Linked DNA regions of Homo sapiens. The protein of the gene in region 1 interacts with the protein of each later gene in a biochemical or structural test. Each region holds a gene or a part of one and is shown on either strand. Other genes may lie near its edges.

The links. Proteins that work in one complex are often made in the same cells at the same time.
Region 2: the proteins of JDP2 (region 1) and HDAC5 form a complex in vitro, tested with the Homo sapiens proteins (one study listed by BioGRID).

The regions. Positions count from the first base shown.
Region 1 is NC_000014.9:75,437,130-75,445,828, forward strand, and holds part of JDP2 (jun dimerization protein 2), read left to right. Parts: intron 1-768; coding exon of another isoform or gene 769-791; coding exon 792-992; intron 993-8,699. UniProt on the Homo sapiens protein: Component of the AP-1 transcription factor that represses transactivation mediated by the Jun family of proteins.
Region 2 is NC_000017.11:44,112,942-44,121,640, reverse strand, and holds part of HDAC5 (histone deacetylase 5), read left to right. Parts: intron 1-1,045; exon of another isoform or gene 1,046-1,203; intron 1,204-1,537; exon of another isoform or gene 1,538-1,654; intron 1,655-3,936; 5' UTR 3,937-4,125; coding exon 4,126-4,147; intron 4,148-5,645; exon of another isoform or gene 5,646-5,729; intron 5,730-8,699. UniProt on the Homo sapiens protein: Responsible for the deacetylation of lysine residues on the N-terminal part of the core histones (H2A, H2B, H3 and H4).

The DNA.
Region 1 (8,699 bases):
GTTGCAGTGAGCTGAGATCGTGCCACTGCACTCCAGCCTGGGCAAAAAAAAAAAAAAAAAAAAGCATGGAGGAGTTTTCTGGTACTGGGTTCCACAGGGAAAGCACATGCTAATTAATTCCACCTGCTTTGCCTCAGTCCCTTCCTCATAGATAGCACACACACTCACCTTTAACTTAGATTTGCTTCATCTCCTACTCAGGGTGTCTTAACAAATATGCAGAATAGGATGTGTGATTGGAGGGGAGGCACCATGCCAGACCAAAAATAGCTTCCTCTGAAACAGGTGTGAAGGTGCTTGAGGTTCTGCCGTTATAATTCGCTCTCTTCAGAGACTGTATGCTGCCATTGAAATCCCAGCTCCACCAATTTTAACTGTGTACAACCTTAAGCGAATTATCATTCTAAGCTTGGCTACTTCCTCTGTGTAATGACCTCTGATCCAGCCTAATGGGACTGCAGGATTACCATGGGGCCTGGCACATACCAAAGGCTGAATACATGTTGCCTATGATTGGGTCAAGCATTGCCTTCAAAATAAAAAAGGCAGACACTTCTGGCAGTGCCAAGGGTGACCTTGGTGTGAGTTAATTGAGCAACTTTTCCTCTATAACAGGAAGGACTTTACGGCAGGAAGAGCAGCTGGGTGGGAAAGGGATTCAGGGGAACATTGGTGAAAGAAGCCACAGTCCTGGCAAGACGAGGGACTTGAGCCCTCCTGGAGCCCCCAACCTGGCTGACTGTCCTGCTCTTTTCCTGCCCACTCCAGGCTGGCCTGCCACTCCTCCTGCTATGATGCCTGGGCAGATCCCGGACCCTTCGGTGACCACAGGCTCCCTGCCAGGGCTTGGCCCCCTGACCGGGCTCCCCAGCTCGGCCCTGACTGTGGAGGAGCTGAAATACGCTGACATCCGCAACCTCGGGGCCATGATTGCACCCTTGCACTTCCTGGAGGTGAAACTGGGCAAGAGGCCCCAGCCCGTGAAAAGTGAGGTGAGCGAGCCTTTTACCCCTGGCAGATTCCAGGTCTGGCCTTAAACCCACCATGGGACCTTAACCTTGCTGTTCAAAGTGTGGTCTGAGGACCAGTATCATCCGTACCACCCTGGGGTTATCAGAAATGTGGAATCCCAGGCCTCGCCCCAGGCCTTCTGTATCAGAATCTGCATCTTAACAAGATCCCCCAGGGATTCGTGGACGTATTAACACTTGAGAAGCACTGGGCCAGGGGAGGATGTTTAACCTGTCTCTGGTTCTCTGGGGGGCGGTGGAAGAGTGATAATAATGACAGTAATGAATAGTAATATCTTGGCCATCTCTCTGGGGTGGTGGGAGGATTGGGGAGATAATGGGAATGGGAATGTGTACATGTTTTGAAAAGTAGACAAGAGAATGCCAATATTAGGTTATCTTTTAAAATTGTTATCATTAGTCACATCGTGACCTCCACCCCTCTTGGCCCTTTCTGCAGCTGAACCAGGGAACTTGGAGGAAGAGTAGCGTGGCCTCCCTTCCCAAGCAGCTGCCAGAGCTAGGCATGGCCTCGGTCAGCCAGCAGTGTCCGCCTTAGATGGCGTTTGCCCGGGACCCACACGTGGAGCACCCACATGTGGCATTTGCAAGGAATTCCTCCTCAGGTCCCTTGCACCTGCAGCTCTCATGAGCCCTTTTTCTCGGGGCACTGGTGAGCAGCAGCAGTCCCCGGCATGGCTGAGGATCTGTGCAGGGCATGCCCCCGGCGACTTGCCCAGGGCTGGCCGTTTCTCTGAAGGCCTGTCCCAGCAAGGTTCCCAGCAGCGCCGTTTCTTCAGAGGCCTGCCAGAGTAGCTGCCCCCTGGAAAGGAGGAGCCTGTGGTGGGAGGTGGGGAAGAGGCTGGGATCGGGAGGGCGCAGGAAGCAGCTGAGCATCTGGGAATGGTAGCTCTGCTTGGAGGGAGAGTTCACAGGCAAAGATGAGCCTGGGGGGAGCTCGGAGGGCTGAAGTGCTGGAAGTGCTGGAGAGAGGACTTTCTTCGTGGAGAAGGGTGTCTGGGTACCCGTAGGGGAGAGCTGGGGATATTAGGCAACTATCTCTCAGCTCCCCTTCTCCTGATAGGTACCTAAAAACTGCAGAGGACTGCTGGGGGCTTGGCTGTGGTGGCAAACTGGCCGTGGTGGCAAACTGGCCATTTGCAGGCTGGACCTGGCTCTCAGATGTATTTTGTTTGGCCGGCTCAGTGTTTTAAAAGAAACGCGAACCCCCATTTCATTTGAAAATTTTGATTAAAAAATTGTAAGATCTCATCATACACTACCCTGTTCTGGCATGGTAATGGCTAAGTGGGGTGGACAGAGGCACTTCACTGTTTCCTCTTTCCAGTGGGCCACAGGCCCCTGCACCTCCCTGTTATTCGTGATCCTACTTACATTGTTGGTTTTGCTTTTGCTACTACCATCTGCCTTCATTTACCTCTACTGCCTGGTCCCTGTTAGCCATTTGTGCTCAAGACACGTGGATAAGGTCCATCATAGGTGCCTACTAAAGACTGTGGATTACAAGCTGTGAGTTGATGGTGATTACATTCTTCTGAATTGATCTTGTAAGCCAATGTGTCGTTGGGGCACATCCCGGCTTATATAGTGTTCTGTCTTCACGATGGAGGGTCCTTGTCTTTTGGCCCTCTGCTCCTCACCTTCCCAGGTCTGTAACTTGAGAGCATCTGTTTCTGGATCATTCCACAGTAAAATTGCCATTTAGAGCCAGTAGCTGAGCAGTTTCATGGGGGCACTAAGGCTGCGCATGGGGTTGATGAAGAGCCAGGTGTCTTGGGCAGAGGTCGTCAAGCTGGGATTCGCCTGGGGGGCTGAGTTAACACCTCTCTCCTCTGCAAAAGGCACTGGAGGAACTCTTCCCTTTTTTTATTTTTTATTTTTGGAAAAGCCACTTTTATTTGGGTTGGGTATTTTTACATTTTACAGCCACCCCCAAATTGGTGGCATCTGCCCTGTACCCGACAGTGACGTGCTGTCCTCACAGGCACCCACAGACGTGCACCATCCAGGCCGCAAAAATAACAAGCCGTTTTTAGGGCATATTTGCATGTCCTCTCCCTCGCTGTCAGACTGCAGTGTTGTGGGGGCGAAGAGGCAGATGGAGCTGCGAGATTGTACCGATGTAGAGAGATGCCAGCCCTGCACTGCGAACCGACCTCCAAATGCTTCCTAGGTCAGACCCCAGGGGCGGGAAGAGCTAATTCTTGGAGTAACTAAAACCTAAAGCGGGGTGGGGAAAGAAACTTGCAGCTGAAGAATCTATGGTCTGAAGATCTATTTGCATATGGCAAACTGCCTTGAGCGGATTTTCATATTGGCATTTTAGACTAGTAAAAGTTTCTTTAATAATAATCAGATACTAGCTCATTAAGCATTTAATATGTCCCAGGACCTGCACAAAGTGCTTAACATGCATGACTTCATTCATTCCTTATTCAGTCCTGGAGTCCAGGTTACCCCCATAGTAGAGAAGAGTTTGAGGTCTAGGGAGGGGGTTCAGTCACTCAGGGTCACACTGCTGGGAAGTGATAGCGCTGGGGCCTGGTGTGGTGGACGATGGCTGCCGTTACAGCCGGGTCTCACTTGTGCTGAGCTAAGCCCTAGGCACGGTACTAGGTCTCTTTGTGAAGTACCTTGTTTACCCTGCACAAGTACCCTCTGAAGTAACTAGTGTTGTTGCTGTTGTTATACCCACATTACAGATGAGGTCAACAAGGCTGAGGGAGGTCCAAGGTCACTGGCTGGGAAATGAGCTCAGGCAGTCTGCCTTGAGCCCAAGCTTTAACCACATGCCGTGTGGCCTCCCATGCCTCTATACCCCTTCCAGGCTTCTAACCAGAGCTCTGTTGAGCTGGGGAGGCTGGATGAACCTGGCCGCAGAATGTTCGATCATTTTGATGACATTGTCTGATGAGTGCTGAGCCCTGCAGTCCTGCAGCCTTACTGTCTCCTAGTTCCGAGAGAGAGAGAGAGGGAGAGAGAGAGAGAGAGCGAGAGAGCGAGCCGGCTGAGCCGCTGTGCGGGCAGCTCTGTCAGAGCTGGTTCTTGGGTTGTTTGCCTTGCAGAGGCCAGCAGTCTCCTGGGCTCTGTCCAAACGCATGGAGCAATTCAGTAAAAGAAAATGGGAGGAATTAAGTTCAACGACAGGTTTTGTGAATTATAAAGTGCTTTGTGCTGATGTCATTATTATTACATGGTCAACACATGACGTTAAACTGTTTTGGTGCCAACTGCTTGCCTGCAGTCCCTTTGTTCAAGCCATATTTGTTAAGCATCTACTATGTGCTGAGCACTGCACCAGGCACTGGGAACAGAGCTACAGATAAAGCAGTCAAAGCCTTACATCTCTCGGCACCGTATATTGCAGTGACGGCATCCAAAAGTAAGCAAATTAATACACGATATATAAGGTGAGTTAGTGGTCAGCACCACGAAGAAAAATTAAGCAGACCAAGGACGTGGCAGTGGTAGGACTGCTCATTCTGATGGTTGGCCAGGGACCCTGGGAACGTCATTTCCTGGGTTGTGGGATTTTTAAAGCTGTTGCTTCTTTCTCCTTTCTTTTCTAGTATTCGCTTTCAGGACAGCTTTGCTCTCTGGCTTTCTCCAGAGCTTTCCTTCCTTGACTTTTCCTCTGTAGCCCCTCACAGCTGGACTCCTCCACCAACCAGTCCCTATTGGCCTGAAGATCTTGGCCCTTCCCAGGTCATCTCCCAGCGAGCTGTGGCTGTGGTGGTCACACCCTGCCTCTGGGTCTGGAATGCATTTTCAGTTGGGAGGGGAGGGAGGCCTGAAGCCCCACCCTTGCACACACACATAGACACACCAGACACTTACTAATCAACCTGCTAGACAGGACCCCTCACCCTCTCGCCACGTCTCGGTGCTCTAGAGGGGACTCAAGAGTTCAAGGGAGGCTAAACTGGATGACCTTTCAGGAAAGAGGCTGCACACTGTCGTTAAGGGGCAGGAGTCGGCCTACAGATGAATCTTGTTCACAGGGTGGTTTGCTTTTTCTTTCTTTTTTAACAAAATCACAGTGTGGTTTTCTTTTTCTTTTTTAAAAAATTGAATGAATTGCCATATTTAAAAGCCGGGAAATGTGGACTCTCTGGCTTCTTTTAAAAAACCAGAATATCTACCCACTTAAGGCCACACCCTTATACACAACAAGAGGTTGGAGCTGAGGGGCAGATGCCTGCTGTATTTGTATACAGCCTTGAGTTCACCGCATTCCCCACTACTCACTGATGTCTTACCCCCAGCCCGCTTCATACCATCTGTGTTGCCAGCCTGATTTTGAGTCTGTGTCCCATGTTTATGTCCCACAGACCTTGCTTGTTTGTTTGAACATTATGAGCTGTGTCAACTTGGCAAGTCACTTAAACTTTATTCCTTGATCGCTCTACCTCCCAATTCTTATCTCCAGCCATTGTTCATTAGGTTTTGCTATTTCCAAATTTCGTTGACTTCAGGCAGAAAAAAACAAAATACAACAAAAATCAAACCAATCATTCCCAAACGTGGCTGGTCATCAAAACACCTTGGGAAACTTCTTAAAAAGTATAAATTTCTAGACCTCACCCAAGGTCCATGGAATCAGAATATCTGAGGGTAGAGTCCTGGGAAGCTGTATAGCTAGTAGGCTCAGAGATGACTCAGCTACTTTTGGGAATGTGACTCTTTGCGGTTTCTTCCTCTCCTCAGGCTCTTCTGATCCTTGTCAGGGAGCTTTCTGGGGGTGTCACCCCGAGGAATCGGTGCATACGTATCATTGTGGACTGCCCTTTCCAACGTAGGGCAGTTTCCTGTGTGTATTCCACATGGGGACCGGATCCGTGTCCTCATCATTTTCAGAGCTGGAGAGGAGACTTAACTGTCTGTGGATTTCACATTGGCGATTTCCCATCTTCTCCAGGGTCCCTGGAGAACATTGAGAGGGTTTTCCCGTTTTGGATGAAGTGTGAATAGGAATCCATGGACCAGAGAGCGGCCTTGGAAGCCATGTTCACTCAGCCCCAGGTGGTCTTCCCAGACTTTGTTCATAACAGAGACCAAGACGTGCATCCATGTTTAGCCTGAGCAGAAAAAGTTGCCCCAAACCAGCTGATGTGCTGGGTAAATGTTGGCCTAAGCATGCTTGTGTTTTTAGTGATTTGAAACGTAAAGGCAGCCCACTGACATTTTTTAGCAAGCTTTGCATAATTGGTTTTTAATTGTGGCTCTTTGGAATAGCATTGGCCTTCTTCCCCCTGACTCAGATGCTTTTTTTGTCTCATACTTGTTTGGCAGAGAGGTCCAATCTGTCCTCTCTTGGAACAGAATCTCCCAACTCATCTTTGAAATCCGTAATTTCCACTTTAGTTCCGTTACTTTGTTAGCACATTTTCGAAAGCTGTTAGCTTAAAAAAAAAAATTAAATTTGAGGGAGAATGAGTGATAGTTAAAGGCAGCTATGAGTGTGTTTAACATTGGCCCCTGTGGTGTTGAGTCTTATTTGATACCATATCCAGAGCATTCACAAGGGTTCTGAAGCTTTTATTTAAAATCAGAAGTCGGTCACACCCACTGTTATCCTAGCACAGGGTCCCTTGGAGAGGTGGTGGTGAGGACGTGGCTGGATCTCTATGTCCTTAGCAGAAATCAGACACCTCTGAAAAGCTCAGGAAGTCTTACAGCTTCTTAGGTTTTCTATTAATATCTTAAAGTGAGGATAATAATAATACCTACCTCTTAGTGTTGTTATGAATTTTTTTTTTTGAGACAGATTCTCACTCTGTTGCCCAGGCTGGAGTGCAATGGCATGATCTTGGCTCACTGCAGCCTTGACCTCTTGAGCTCAAGAAATCCTCTCACCTCAGCCTCCTGAGTAGCTGGGACTACAGGCACATGTCACCATGCCTGGCTAATTTTTGTATTTTTTGTAGAGATGGGGGTTTTGCCATGTTGCCCAGGCTGTTTTTGGACTCCTGGGCTCAAGCGATCCTCCCATCTTGGCCTCCCAAAGTGCTGGGATTACAGGCGTGAGCCACCAACCCCTGTTGCTGCTATGATAATGAAATGAACTAATGCTGCTAAAGGTTTCACATGATGCCTGGCACTTAGTAAGACACAGATATAAGGTAGGCTTGTGACTCACTTTTCAAATGTGTTGATCGTGCAAAGTAGTTTTTATAATTGAATCAAAAACCTGTTTCTTGGGCTTGTATTGACCTGAGGGTATTTTGTCCTCGGAGATGGTGGGTGGTCTGAGGCGTTGCAGGAGCAGGGCACATCCAGGCTTCCTAACCAGAGGGGCTACTTCTGGGGCCTGGGAAGAGTTCTGGGCTTGGGTGCAAGTTCTGGGTTCAAAGTCTGGCTCTCTCGCTCATTCCCAGCACAACCTTGGGAAAGTTAGCTCGTTTCCTCATCTGTAACAGGAGAAAATCCAAACTGCCCTTTCCAAAGTAGTACAGTTTCCTGCACATACTGCACATGGTGACTGGATCCACATCCTCATCACAGAGCTTCATCGCGAAGATTAAGTGAGGTGCTGTGTGAAAGATGACCTTGACTGCAGTGCAGTATGTCCGTAAATTACCTTTGTTAGAGACTGATTCCATGTGTAGTGAACTACCTATTCTGACAGCACTAACCTTTCTGAAGTATTAGCCTATGACCTGGGTTTCAGGGAAGCAAGCAGACTTTCCAGTTTCTGGTTGTTTATGCAGTTTAGACGCAGCTGGAGTTTTAATTATCATAACAAACTATAAATGAGAAGGCTTTTCAAGCCTCTGTTTTCCCCTAAGCTGCCTTCTGTGACCCCTTATCTTGTTTCCTGTGGTGTTAATGTCATCGTTGTATTCCCATCAACCAACAATCTTTTAGCAGCCTTAAGAAGGGCTGTCAAGTCTTCTGTCAATCCTACCATCTTACTTTGATGTTTCCAGGTCCACCGGCAACATGGACTCAGAGTTGGGAAACTGAGTCCTCTCCTGGGTGAGGCTCATCTGGCTGAACAACTATGAAGCCATTTAAGTCTGTTTTCCTTCTACTGTGCCCAAAAGGCACAAGGCAACCTGGCCTGAGGTTGGAGCATGGAGATCTAGAGGAACTCATGGATGGATTCAGGCGGGATGTGAAAGTGCTGGGAGTGAGGGCCTGGGCCTCCTCTGGGTTTAGCCACCCTTCCAGGTTGTGTACAACCTGCCATATGCTGGGGCTCATTGACTGTGCTCTGCTCTGTGGCTACAGGATCCCCTTTTACTGAGCGTAGTGCATGTGTATGCTCTGACAAACTCCTCCGTGGTTTGCCTCTGTAGTCCTCCCTACACCCTACCAACTCCCCAGTCCCCGCGAATAAAAACCCTTGCCTTTTTGGAGGCAATGTAGCAAAGCAGGACTGCTGCATTGGAATAGTTTGGCTCTGGAGAGTTCACTAGATGTTTGAAATTCAGTTTCGTCCCTTGTAAAAATAGGGGAAATAGACCCCTACCTAGTACCTAGTACCATATACATATATTATCTCAAAATGGATCGAAGGCCTAAATGTAAGAGTGAAAACTAGAAAACTCTTAGAAGAAAACAGCTGTAAATCTTTGTGACCTTGGATTAGGTAGTGGTTTCTTAGATTTTATGCCAAAAATAAAAGCAACAAAATAAAAAAAATAAATTGGACATCTTCAAAAT
Region 2 (8,699 bases), on another chromosome or scaffold:
GGGGTCATTTGTGTTCCCGCATAGTGGGGGAGGGGGCATCAGCTATAGGAGCTGGGGGTAGTGCAGTCGGTGCTGAAGTACCAGCTGCTCTTTAATAATTAATTCTTCCTACTCACATCCCTTTGAGGAGGGATGTCTGGAACACAGCATTAGGCTCAGCCAGCCTGCTAGAGGACGCACTCCTGTTGGTGGCAGTAGGGGGGGGAAGGGGGAGACAGCAAGGGGGGGTGGTTCTTGGCATTTTTGGAGCACTGTAGCTTGCTCATGAATGAAAACCTGATGTAGCCCGTGAGGGGGCCTATTGTAGCCGACTTTAGCTAATTAAACTTTCTCTGCCTTTCTTCTTCCCTATCCCACCTCACCCCAGGCCCAGCCGCAGCCCTTTCTTGAATGGGGACCCTGCCTGGTAGTGCTGGGAAGAGGGTATCATTCTGCCTGAGGTTTTAGGGCAAACAGACCCCGTCTTCTGCCCTCTGCCTCCGCCTCCTCCCTTCCTCCCCTCTCACCACCCCCCTCTCTTTTTTTTTTTTTTTTTTTTTCTAGAAATAGCAGCCTCCTCCATCTGGCTTGTGCAGATGCCTGGAGCTGCGTCTGAGCAGACAAACAGAAATGGGCCGATTGCAAAAATGAATTTGTCAGCCTGGTGCCTTTTTTCCTTCCCTGTCACCCTCCCCCTTTCCCTGGTTTGGGGCCTGGACATCCAAGTCAGCCACCCTTCATGGCTCTGATCCTTCTGGGCTTCTGTTGGCCTAGCTTGGGGGAGGCACTAGGCAACAGAAGCTCTCAGAGGCTGAGGAAAGTGGTAGGCTGTGGCCATGGTCAGGAGGGGTCAAGATAAATTCCTAGTGCCTTTGACCTTTGGGTGGGATGTCTTGGCTTGTAACTTTTTTTTTTTTTTTGAGATGGAGATTCACTCTTATTGCCCAGGCGGGAGTGCGATGACACAATCTTGGCTCACCGCACCTCTGTCTCCAGGGTTCGAGTGATTCTCCTGCCTCAGCCTCCCGAGTAGCTGTGATTACAGGCATGCGCCACCACACCTGGCCAATTTTGTATTTTTTTAGTAGAGAAAGGGTTTCTCCATGTTGATCAGGCTGGTCTGGAACTCCTGACCTCAGGTGATCCGCCTGCCTTGGCCTCGCAAAGTCCTGGGATTACAGGCGTGAGCCGCCGCGCCTGGCCGGTTTGTAATTTTTGATGAAACTGTCGGGGTAGAGTGAAACAATCTCAGACTCCCAAGACTTGATTCACACTGCTTGACCCTGTCACCTATGACCTAGGGGGTACCCTGGCCTGGGGCCAGAGCAGGTGTGTTGGGAGGGGGTTGCATGGTGGTACTGGACTCCAGGATCCAGAGAGGGTCTTCAAGGGACACCTGACTCCCCAGGAATTTTGAGGGAGTTGTTTGAGGAACAAGATCTCTACAGGGTAACATTGTGAACCTATGGCCTTTGGAGCATTGCTTTGTACCATGTGCCCCTCACTTGTCTGCCCTCCTCCACCCACCCTTTGCCAGAGTTTGGGGTTTCCACCCTACTTCCATAGGCTCAGCCCTGAGCTTGTAGGGTGAGATGTAGCCTGTTTCCTTCATCCTTGTCCGGCTGTCTTGGCTGGATGTGGGAGGTGGTTTTGGATCCCGGAGTGGGGTAGGGGTCTGTCTGGAAGAAAGAGTTGGTGTGAGGTAGTGGGGTGGGCAGGGGTCTGTCTGCTTATGATGTCCTGGAAGTTGGGCCACTCCCTGGTTTGGCATCCAAGTGTTAGGTCATCTGGGACACAGCTCCTGGTGTCCCTGACTTCCCACTGAGACCCAACAGATTTCTCTGGCAGATGTGGGAACAAACAGCTCAGGTTTTAAACATCAGGCTCCCCTTCTCCCCTTCATGTCCCACCCCAGACAGGAATCTGTGCTTGTCCCGATCAGACCATGAACACTGCTTTGTTTCTCAGGGAGGCTCAGCCTGTGGCTCTGGTTCACTTGGGAGACTTGATGGGGGTGTTGGCAGACACTCTTTACAGGTGGACAGGGCCCAGGGGCCCAGGGATCCTGCTGAATTTTATAGGACGGGGAGGAGTAGACGTAGATGAGTCCCGAGCCCACCATGAGTTCAAGGAGCTGCTCCCTTCCTCTTCTGCCTCAGGGGTGAGGATCAGCATCTTTAAGACCCACAGAGAGAGTAGGTGGGTTAGGATGATGGGGGCTAGGGGCTAACCTTAACCTGGTTTCTGTGCCACTGGGGCTGTGCCCCTTCTGAGCACCTTGCTGTGGAGGTGCCTCTCACTGTGGAGATGGACTGGGCTACTCAGGCTGCTGGGAATCGTGGGCATTTCTGAACCTGTGTTCCCCAGCCCACGGGAAAGGGTGTGAGCAGGACTGGGTGCCAGCCTTGGTGTGGGCACAGGCTGAACTGCCTGCCCACGTGGGCCCTGCCAGAGCACCAGCAGCCCTACCTGCCACATTCCTGAGCTTGGCCTCAGCCCTGCCTGCGCAGCCTTTTTTGTCTTAATCCCATACCTGTGCCCGTCAGGAGCAATTTAGCCCCTTCAACTCTGCCCCCCAATCTGAGTGCACCTTTCTCCAGCCATAGAGTCCAAGCCCTGTGGTCCCAGCAGCAAGCCTGGGACCTCAGGGTCTCGTGTGTGCATGTGTGCGTGCATGCGCATGTGTGTTCATGTTCTTGTGTTTCTGCCATAGCTGGCTTCTGGGCTTCTGGGCTCCAAATGGACCCCACCCTTGGGAATCTGATGAGAATGTAAGGCTTACTGAGAATTAATCCTGCCAGGAGGTGGGGCTGTCTAGGGGGGCAGAGCTGATTGCTGGTTCGAGGCTTGGGGAGCAGAGTTAGGGCTTAAACTCGCAGCAGCTCACAGCCTCCTCTGATGGCTTCCTGCTACCTTGCTTTCATTGGGTATTGGAGGGCCTGCCTTCATTTGGAAGCAAATGAATGAGATCATGTCTGGGGTGGATCGTGGGCCGTTTAGGGATGGGCCAGGTGTCTGTATGCATAGTGTCTGAGGCTTGAGGACTAACTGTGGGGGAGAACTGGAGGAGTGGGCATGGGTTGGCAAAGCCGTGGTCCTGTAATACCTCCTCCTTTACTATACTGGCCTCAGCAGGGCTACTGCTGGGCCTTTTGTTGCTTTCGTACAAACTGGGAAAAAATCGTCCCTTGTTTTGGGTGGACTCAGCATGTCAGGCCATGGCTTGGCAGGCAGGGCACAGGCTGGATTTCGTATCTCCCTGGGCCAGACCTCCTTACACAGAGCACAACCTGTACAATATACACAAAGTGCTGGGCTTGGGCCCTGCACCTGCCAGGCCAAGGGTACTAGATTTGGGATGGAGAGGTCTCTGACTTTCTCAATTCCTGGAAAGAGAAGCTCTTGTCCTGGTCTGTTGTTGAACTGTGGGAGACCAAAACAGAAGCACATCCATATTTCCAGAGCTGGGTGGCACAAGGATCAGAAAGTCGGGAGAAGACCCCTAGAAGTCCCAGCTTAGGCTATGGAGGCTGGGATACCAGTTTCTCCCTTCACTTCTGCCAGGGACTCTAGATCAGCCCTGCATCTCCCCACTGCTATGGATACAGATCAGAAGCCCCCCTGCACTTTCTCCTTTGGTGCACACCTAGTCCCATGGCAGGCACTGTTGGGAGTCTATAGGGTCTCCCCAGCTGGCAGTAGACACTCACCTGAAAAGGGGTCTGTTGGGTTTGGCCACCATAGCCATTTCCTATCCCTTGGGCTCTGGGAGCCTCATCAGTTAGTAAGATAAGAAACCAGGGTCTATCCAGTTCTGCAGATTTCTCCTGTGGCTGTGGGCAGGTATCCCTCCCTCTCATCCCTCATCCCCAGGTACAAACTGATGAGCTCCAAGGTCTCCTTCGACTCTCAGATTCCTGAGTTAGGGGCCTCTAACCCTGCTCCATCTCTCCCCAGGGATGCCGTTCTGAGTGCCTGACTGCCTCGCCCCGAAGGATGGCCTCGGATGGGCATTAGAGGCACGGCGGCCCCGGGCTCCCGTCCCGTCCGTCTGTCTGTTATCGTCTGTCTCTCTTGACATCACCGCAGCTCCACCCCCTCCCGTCCCAGCCCCCAACGCCAGCTTCCTGCAGGCCCAGAGCCGGCATGAACTCTCCCAACGAGTCGGGTAAGAGCTGGGAGGTTGGAGAAGAGCACCCTGGGGTAGCTTCGGATGCAATGGGCTGTGTGGGTTTCCCTTCCAGGCCAGCTGACCTTTACTGTCTGAGCTATAAGGGAATGAGGGGGTAAGGAGTGGAGAAGTGTTGCAAGAAAGGGCCCATGAGGTAGACCTGGGAATCGAGGGATCGATGGTCCGGTCTGGTCCTGGGAAGGCAATGGGTCCTACTCTGCCCCCCATGCTTGCCCTCTCAACTTAGGGGTGTTCAGCTCCAGCTTCGCCTTCCCCTGCTAGCCAAGACAGGTGGGCCTGAGGGGGCAGTGTGTATCCCTTAATCTCTCTGGGCAGTCTGGGATGATGTTGGAGGAATTTCTTTACTATAGCAGAATGCTCAGCTTCCTTTTCGTGATGGTGGCTTCTTTACTTAGTGGAATGTTTGTGTTCCATACTTTTTTCTTAGTGGAGGTTTACAAGGGCACTGGGCCTTAACCTCCGTGTGCAGGTGCGTGGCATTGGGTGGGAGTGGGGTGACGTGTGTAGAGGAGTCTCGGCTCTCCTCTGAGTCCAGGTAGACTGCCTCTCTTCCTCTTGGGCCCTTCATATGGTAGATTGCTAATCTGGGGTCTTTTACTCTGAGATTTCCTGTTCCTCTTTGTTCCTAGGACCCTGTCCAGTGCTGCCAGAAATAGTCTATTTGGGGGACTCTAGGCAGCTTGATGTGCAGCTGGGTCTGGATGTATGCCTGTGAGGCTGTGTTCTAGTGGCCTGAGCTGGACCCTCAGCAGTTTCCCAGGAGGGTCCTGGGGCAGTGTGGTCAGAGTAGTGGCTGTCGTCTCCTCCTCCTCGGGTGTCTCCTTCCACACAGTGTTAAAGGTCCATCTTGCTCAACTTTAGCTCTCCACGGCCCATCGTACTCCTCATCTTTTTTATGTAGGGGTAGGTGGATATTTCTCCTTTTAGAGATAGGGCAATTGGGGCCTAGGATGAATACCCATTTGCAGGATTGTACAGAAGCAGCATCAGGGAGGAATCCAGACCACCCCACATTTTCTTCCCCATCATCCTTTCTGTAGGGTTTGCTGTTCTCCTTCAGATATTCCTCCCTCTGCCCTTGCCCTCATTCAGCCCCTAGGGGCTGGGACAGGTGGGCTGCCCAGCTCTGCCCTCTTGCTTGCCCCTCTGAGGCTGGATGGCGAAGGGAAAGGAGAGGCCTGGGTCCTCATCTGTCCCTCGTGCATCTTGGCTGGACACTACCCCAGCAAGCTCAGCCATGTCGGGCAGTAGTGCCAGCTACTTCTTTCCTCTGAGTTGTGACGCTGACCTGTCCAGGAGCCATCTGCAGTCCCTGCTTCCCATGGGGCTGGGGTCTAACTCTTGGCCAAGGGAATTGAAGCTGCCTAGCGGCATCTGTTGGTGGCTTGGAAAGGATTTTTCCCAGCTTTGGGGTTTCTTTCCCTTGCAGGGAAATGTGATAATCAACCCAGGATAGATGAAGTTATTGGGTTACCTTTCCAGATGCTGGCGGTCCAAGTTTCCCTTGCAGCTACCTCTGTGGGAGCTGACAAGAGTGTTGGAGGAGCTGGACGTGTCCACCAACGCAGGAGGCTGGCAGCTTGAGAGCCACTGCTGAGCCCTGGCCAGGAGGGGCGTCCTGAGTGGGCCTGTGGAATGGGCCCCGCGTCCTGCCTGGCTTTCCAGCTCCCCCCAGCAGGGGGAGATGCTGTCTTCTCTGTGTTGGGGAAAGAAGGAAAAAAGGAGGGGGCCAGGGATTGGGAACCTCATTTTAGGATTGTTGAGAGGCTTTGGAACTGGGGCCACTGCTTGGGGATGTTTGCTTGAGGCCCTTCCTGCAGAGTGTTCCTGGGGTTCTGGACTGGCTTTCCCAGTTGTGGGGTTCCAGCTGCCCTGGGCCAGGGAGATAGTCAGCCTCCCCCCAGCTCTTCCTTTCTGAGGGGCCTAGCGTCTGCTATTCCCAGAGCTTGGGCTGGCATCTGGGCTAGGGCTGGGGTGCCCAGCGCCTGGCAGAAGCCTGGAAACCACATGCCTTGGAACTCGGCGGAAGTAAAGTGAGACCACCGATTGAAGCCAGAGCACGCGGGTGTCCACTTCCCTGTAGAGAGCCCCAAGAAGGAAAGGTATGGGCCATGGGGCAGGAGATAAGAGGTGGGAAGGAAGGAAATGGTTAGTCCCCAGGGTCTGCTGCAGCCCCTGAGCGCCTCCCACCTTTTCCTCACTTCCCTGAACACTTGCTCCTCTTTCCCCAGAGTAAAGGACAGTAGGCTTTGTAAGGGGCAGAGCTTCTGGTTCCCCTCAAGTCCTCTCAGCGTAGGAGCTTTTCAGTTTGGCAAGTCCTCACTGAGTATCACCAACAGGCTCAGCCTGTGGAAGACAGAAGAAAATATGAGATGGGCCATCCCTGGTCCTCACAGTGAACATGTTAGCAAGAGAGACTGTTTTGGTGAGGGGCAGCAGGTGGAGACTGTGAGTGATTTCCTTCTGGGGCCCACTGCCCAGGAAGGTGGGAGCTGATGACTTCCCTCTGGCTCGGGCTGCCTACCAGCCTTTGACTTTATTTACCTCTTTTGCAGTCTTGGAATCACAGGCGGAGGCTATTGATGGGGTTGCCTGCTTCCCTGAGACCATTCCCTGATCTCTGCCTTTTCTTCCGGCAAAAGGGGGTTTGAGGATTAAGGCTGTCTTTATTTTTCTGGAACTGTTTGCTTCTGCATGTTCTCCTCAGTGGGGCTGAAAGGCTGACAGAACTTTCCCTCAGCTCAGACTCGGCCCAACCAGGTTGGAGGAGCTGCCCAGGGGCCTGGGACCCAGGCCAGCTCTGGTTGTACCCTCTTTGTGCCATTGCCCAGAAGAGCAGGCAAGAGTGAGGCCCACTGTGCAAGCCAGTCTGGGTGGCAGCGGGGCCATGGAGGAGGCGGCCAGGATCCTTCTCCCCAGTGTGGGAGGGAGACAAGCTTCATGACAACACCTGCCTGCCCAGCGCCTCCCAGAACCTTCACACTTTCTCTCTTTCCCTTTTCCAGGATGGAGGGCAGCAGCCCCCCCCCCCCACGCCTGCTCTCTGGGTGACCAGAGAAACTGGGGCATGGGTGTGGGGTGGAGCCAGGAACCTCGGTGTCCTGCCTTCCAGCCTTGGGCTCTGCCTCCTTCAGAGCCCCCAGGGAAGGCAGGCAGTGAGAAAGTGGGTCAATCCTGGCATGGGGCTGGGGTCTGAGAAGTAGACTCCTGGCCTCCCTTCTCTACTGAGATGCCCCCTGGCACACCTCTGTGCTCACTGCAGAGCGGGACCTGCTTCTCCCCTCCTCTTCCCTGCTCTATCATTCCAAAGAGATTGAAGGCTTAGAATGGAATGGCCAGAGAAGGCAGGGTCAACCCTGAGGGGAAGTAGAAGATGCCAAAGTAGGTGTTCACATTTTTCCTGGACTTGGCTTCAAATGAGAGGGTTCAGCCAACACCTAGCATGGGGCCTGGCTGGCACATGGCAGCTCCCAGGCCATGCTGATGGGCTCCAGCATGACTGGGCTCGAAGGGCAGGAAAGAACAGGAGGGTGGGCAGGTCTGATATCTGGGTCTCAGGGAAGCTGGCATCTCACACTTCATCCAGGGTGCTCCTGGGCCAGCCATTGGCTTTTTCACTGCACACTAAGCAGACCTTGCTTTCTTCCCTTTGGTCAAGGTCCCCCCATCCCCACAGCCTTTGGGCTCAGGAAATGGAACCTGGAGCCAGGGTTAGGCTCTTTTCCTCCTTCAGATTCAGAGGGCTAGGAGGTCAGAGTGCAGCCTTTGAGGGAGGGGCAGAGTGAGTCTGGGGAAGACAGTCCTGGCTCTGGGTGAAGCTCATGTACCCCATGCTTGGTGGGTGCTCCATAAGGTTTGTGGGATGATACATGGGTGTGCTGGTTGGGAGAGAACGGAAAAGAGAAGTGAATTGCAAGGAGGGGGGCTAAAGCATGAAGGATTGAAGTTAGACATTAGGAGGACCTTGTATCACCTGAATCTCAGAAGAAAAAAAGACATTTGTCCCCATCCCAGATCTCCTCTCTTATTGCCTTGGAGGGTTCTGGGAATTGCACTGAGGATTTTCTGACTGTGTCTGATACTTTGCTTCCTACTTGTTGGAGGCTGTAATGGTGCTGGGAGCTGGCTCCCCAGCTCCCGGCTCCAGCCACCTCTGGGTGTCCCTGTCCTGGGTGCTACTATCTTCCCTAAGCAGGAAGTCCTGTTTCCTTCAATGTCTGGGTGCTCCAGGTTCTGGGGGCCCTGCTTTTGAGTCCTGGTAACTGACGCCTTCCTCTTCTTTAGAATAAGGCTCTCCTGCCACACTCTCCTATGCCTGGGGCAGGCAGAGAGAGCTGGGACAGGGCTAGCCAGCCCTTCTGGTTACTCCTAGCGTGGGTGGGAGGAGTCCTGGGCTGGGAGGGGTTGCTGCTCTTGGCTTTCTGGGCTCCCTTGAATCTGCTGCCCATCACCCCACTGATGGAGACCTTCCCTTCCCTTCCTCTTGAGAGGGCCTGGTTGGCCAGGATGAGGTTGGGGCAAGGGGTGG